Regions from separate parts of the Homo sapiens genome. Here region 2 is linked to region 1. A link means that fine-mapping ties the variant in region 1 to the expression of a gene that starts in the linked region. Tissue or cell type: fibroblasts. Region 1 holds a variant in brackets; the other region holds the start of a gene. All regions are shown on one strand. Distances are from middle to middle.

Region 1 (2,760 bases):
CCACCACCACCACTATCAGAGATTATGGGGGAAGGAGTCTTAGTTGCTCTCCAAGGCTCACAGTATAGCCTTTGGATTTAACAACGTGCCCCATAGTTCCCTTAATGGCACCTTATAAGTCAGAAGCAGGACCCACTTAGGTCAGAACCTCTAGATTTTCTGCTTCTCACCCCTTATTTCAGATTTTCTTCTTTGGCCACTTGAAGAAGTGTGAATAAGATAGTTCTCATTTAGACATAATGTGAGGGCTGTTTAGAAAGGCATTTTGCAAATAAATTACTTGTATATTATGCATAGTAATTTTGTTGGTTGTAAAATATACTGTTAGACACATGTAGATCCTTGTAAACTGACTCAGTTCCAATGTACTTGGTATGTCTTTAGTTTAAATGGTTTCTCCCCTCAACATGTGGTCCTCGGATTTGATTGTTCCACAGGAAAAAATGTTTTTGTTGTAGACATTCACCACCAGTTTGCCGAAGTTTGTGGAGAAAATGTTTTCAGTTAACAAACAATGTCCCATTAATGCTAGGGGTTTGAGGGAGAAGGCAGGCAGCCTGGAGGGGGTAGCGCAGAGCCACCAGCTGTGGTGCCAAAGGCAGCAAAGACGCCTGGAGGGAGTGGGCACCTTTAGGGTCTTCTGTTCAGTCTGTGCCTCCTTTCCTCAAAGTTGCCCCTAGCCTTCTTCCACAGGGGTGGCCCCAGCAGTCACTGTCTCCTCAAGTGGCCCTGAGGCTCTACCACAGATGACCAGGGTAGACACTCCTGACCCAAGCTGAGACAACCAGATTCTCTCTCCAGGGCACCTGGAATTAGGACACAGGCCTCTGGTCAGTCACAGTTGGCCCTGGAACTAGGACAGCTTATACTGGGGGGCTGGCCTGGCCATTTTCACTGTGTACCATAGAAGGAAAACTGGGCTGTGGAGAAAGGAGACTGACACAGTGTCAGGGAGAAAGAGATGAGAAACCAGGTCACCCCAAGAGAAAAAGGGAGGTGGCAAGAGCATGGCTGTCTCCATTCACAGTGGCCTCTCAGGGCTTTGTTCCCACCCCATGTGGCCCAGCTGCCCTTCCTGCCCTGGCGGGTGCCCAGCACACTCTCCATTTTAGCTCAGGCAAGTGTGAGATGCCTCTGTTACTGGAAACCCAAGGAGACTTGGCTAAGTCCGTGGGCTGGCAGGGAGAGAGGCTTAGCCAGAGATTCTGGTTGCACAGAAAGTGTCTGCCTGTTCACACCTACCCTGCTAGTCCCATCACACTCAACTGGCCTGTCTAAATCAGACATGCACAGATAATTTTTACTGATCACAATATTAAATGCAACAGATTCACACTTATCCCTAAAATAATGTTTTCTCCTAGTCACTTCCTGATATACCTTCTTGTGTCATAGGGAAGTGGATGGATGGCATTATAGATGGCATACCCAGAACAAAACAGGATTGGCACTGGTCTTGCCAATTCCCCTGACAATCGGTCAGTCCCATTGCTGGGGCATTTGATACTCATCTGTAGCTTTGGCCCTGCCCCGGGTTCACATGCAAATCCTCTGTCTAGATGGAAGGCTTTAAGAAGCCCTGTCTCAGTAGTTCAGGAGACACAGTTAGTTTACTCTGTGACTTGTCCTGCTTTTTTTTTTTTTTTGAGAC[A/G]GAGTCTCGCTTTGTCACCCAGGCTGGAGTGTAGTGGCATGATCTTGGCTCACTGCAACCTCGGCCTCCTGGGTTCAAGCAATTCTCATGCCTCAGCCTTCTATGCGTGCCACCATGCCTGGCTAATTTTTGTATTTTTAGTAGAGACGGGGTTTTGCCATGTTGGTCAGGCTGGTCTTGAACTCCTGACCTCGTGATCCACCTGCCTCAGCCTCCCAAAGTGCTGGGATTACAGGCGTGAGCCACCACACCCAGCAGGACAAGTTACTTAATTTTTCTAGAACCCAAAGGGATTGTTGAAAAGATCATATGAGCTAATGTGCCTGGCAAAATGTAGCAGGTATTTGATAAAATAAAACTGTCTTTCTTTCCTGTACTTAGATTTTTTTAACAGGTTTATTGAGATATAATTTACATACCATACAGTTCGCCAATTAAAATATACAATTCATTAGTTTTTAGGGTGGGGCACGGTGGCTCACGCCTGTAATCCCAGCACTTTGGGAGGCAGAGGCAGTTGGATCACAAGGTCAAGAGATCGAGACCATCTCGGCCAACATAGTGAAATCCCCTCTCTACTAAAAATACAAAAATTAGCTGGGTGTGGTGGCATGCACCTGTAGTCCCAGGTACTCGGGAGGCTGAGGCAGGAGAATCGCTGGAACCCAGGAGGCGGAGGTTGCAATGAGCCGAGATCGCATCACTGCACTCCAGCCTGGTGAAACAGCGAGACTCCGTCTCAAAAATAAATAAATAAATAAACGAATAAAAAATAAAAAAATTAAAAAACATTTTTAGTATATTCACTGTATTTAGATTTCTTAAAATGCAATTATAGCATAAGGAATGTGAGGTTTAATAGTTTTAAAAGACAGGATTTTAGTCAGCTATAAGTTTATGTAAATCAACAGTGTGATACCACTGCATTGACAAAAAAACCTTTGTGATATTGGGATGTATTGATACACTTACGATAATCCGAACAGGACAAGTAATAATTCCCTGTTATTCTCAGCTGGCAGTGTGTTCAGTCATTGGGCCTATTTTAAGAGAGAAATGGGCAAATTGGAGCATGACTAGAGAAATGTGATAAGGGTGATGGGAAACTG
Region 2 (2,619 bases), 48 kb after region 1:
ACAGTAGTTACCCCTTATCTGTGGTTTCGCTTTCCTCAGTTTCAGTTATCCATGGTCCGAAAGTATTAAATGGAAAATTCCAGAAATAAACAATTCGTAAGCTTTAAATTGCATGCCACTCAGAGTATTGTTGTGATTGTTCTATTTTATTATTGTTGCTAATCTCTTACTATGCCTGATTTATAAACTTTATCATAGATATGTATATATAAGATAAAATATAGTATATACAGGGTTCAATATCATCCACTTTTTCAGGCATCCACTGAGGGTCTTGGAATATATCCCCAGGATAAGGAGGGACTACTGTATAAAACTTTCAGACTAATAAATCCAGTCCTAAGAGAAAAGTGGGAGTGGGTAGCCATCCTCATGACTCCAATTTATTAGTCACATTTTAAACCTTACCGTGATTTAAAAACACCTGACTCTTTATTATGTTAGATGTTTTCTCTACAATATGCATCGTTTTATGTAAATGCAATAGCATTTCATGGGATCCACTCTAACCAGTAAAACAATATTTTATTTACCAACTGGCACAGAACAAAACAACAATTTTCTGAACCCACCTTCTGACCAGACTTCTTTTCCATCTACAGAAACTCCAACCACTATGCCCGGTGCGCCCACCTCATCCTAAGACCGAAGGGGAAAGAACCGACAGTTACGGGCCTGCTGAAAAAGCCCAGCGCTCTCCTCGGGGACCTTCCAAGGCCCCGCCCCCTGAGCCTGGGCCCCGCCCCCTCCACCTGGGCCCCGCCCACCTCGTCCCAGGCCATGGTCACTCACTAACAGCAAGGGATGTGCCTGTCCGCCCCCTAGGGGGAAGGGGCGGTCCCCGAGACAGGCGGTGACCTCCACCCAGATTTGGGGAACCCCCAAGAGCGTCTGACCACGGCTCGGCGGTGGGGAAATGGGAAGTCTTTCTCGGAAGCCGATCGCGGGCACCCCGCCGCCCCGGGTGGGGTCCACTCAGCCCCCGACAGCACCGCCGACAGGGGTGGATCCCCGGCCCCCTACGCCCCCCGCTCCAGTGGCCGCACCTTGATCCTGTGCAGCAGGTCGCGGCTGCTCTCGATGGCTCTGGCGAAGCACCTGGAGCAGGGCGGCGCCGGGGTCTGCGGAGACCACGGGGCGAGGGACTGCTCCTGTGGCGGCTCGGCCAGAGGCGACGCCTCAGGGTCGGGGGCCGCGGGGGACTGCGCCGGGGCCGCGCCCCTCAGCCCACCTGCCAGCTTCACCCCGAGCGCCAGCCCCAGCCCCAGCCCGAGGCCCCCGACCCAGCCGTGGCCGAGAGGCGGCAGCCCGGCGCGCTGATGGACCCCGCGTCGTCCGCAGCTTGAGGCCAAGCCCCCGGGGGCGGCAGCCCGGGCAGTCACTGCTGACATGAGCCGGTACATGGCGTCTCTGCACAGCCGGCCGCCACCAAACTCACGCACACCCTGCCAGCCGCGGCGCGGGGCGGAGGGAAGGGCAGGGGGCGGGACGGGGGTGGGGACCGCGGTCAGACCCTAGCAGTCGACGCCTGACTACCCGAGCGCCGATCGCATCGAGCCCTTCTTCCTCTCCCTTTTCTTGTCTCTTCCTTGTTTTTCCTTTCTGTCTCTCTTTCCTTTTTTTCCTTTGCTTACCCTCAGATCAAGCGTCACCTCCCAGAAGCCTTCCTAGTTCCCGTCCCATGGGAGTTCTCGCCCTTACCATCTTGCCCCTCAGTGTGCACACTTCTTTAACAACAGTTAACACTTTGTATCATTTAACTACTTGTCAGATTCCTTACCAGAGTGGGACTTCTTTGGGGAGCCTAGACTTAGTTTTGGATCCTCAACTTCTGGAACAGCGCAGGGCACACAGTAGACGCTCAGCAGGCATCTCCTTTCCCTTTAGAGATGCCTTTCTCCTTTCCTTTCCCTTTCTCCTTTCCCCCTTTAGAACGCGCTTCTTTTCACTCTCTTGCCATCTCCCTTATGTCTCATTTCAATTCACCCATTTCCCTAAAGATGTTTTAAAATCTATTGCTTCTGGAATTCTAGCTCCACACCGTACCAAAGACATGAAGTTACATCCAGACCTTATATTACCTTTCTTTTGCTATAAAAGATAAAGTGTTTTTTAAAAATTTCGTGCTTGAAAAATTTTAATCCAAAAGTAACTATTATAATTTACAATTACCTATGATTTCTCAGCATCTGTAAATGATCAGACATTCTTGTGAAATAAGAAACCTAATCTCAAATTGCTACAAAATGTAAAATGTGTATAAAATCCTAGTTTAACGTGTAATGAAATTGATATGTTAATTTGAAGTTACTTAAACATTTATCAGTTTTGTAATTTTTATATTTTGGGATACATACATACACACACACACACACACACACACACACACAATCTTTGAAAGCTTGTAGGCTTTATACCTTCAGCACTGGGGCAATATGCCCCATATACAAAATGGCCCTGTCTTTTCTTGCAGGTGGAATAAAGAAGAGAGCTCACAGACTTGAACTGACAAGCCATCAGGACAAACATATTGAGGTAATAAACTTACTGAGTAAACATATACATACCTCAAAATAAATATATTGAGGTAATAATTATTTAATAGGAGGAAAAGGCAAT

The links. PIP is the estimated chance that this variant, and not a neighbour inherited with it, causes the effect.
Region 2: LACTB starts here. The variant in region 1 is fine-mapped to the expression of LACTB in fibroblasts (GTEx, PIP 0.99). The same link has a PIP of 0.9 or more in subcutaneous fat.

What each region holds. Positions count from the first base shown.
Region 1 is chr15:63,168,364-63,171,123 of GRCh38, reverse strand. No RefSeq gene overlaps it. Among named protein-coding and RNA genes, the nearest start is that of RPS27L, 12 kb to the right of the region's middle. The variant A/G (reference allele first, on the strand shown) is at 1,652.
Region 2 is chr15:63,120,656-63,123,274 of GRCh38, reverse strand. It overlaps LACTB (lactamase beta), which reads right to left and starts at 1,414. Exons shown (of 6, transcript NM_032857.5): 1 at 1,047-1,414; 2 at 573-639. The coding sequence starts at 1,403. It overlaps LOC107984798 (a long non-coding RNA gene), which reads left to right and starts at 1,508. Exons shown (of 2, transcript XR_001751584.1): 1 at 1,508-2,535. RefSeq lists silencers at 656-845, 856-925, 946-1,525.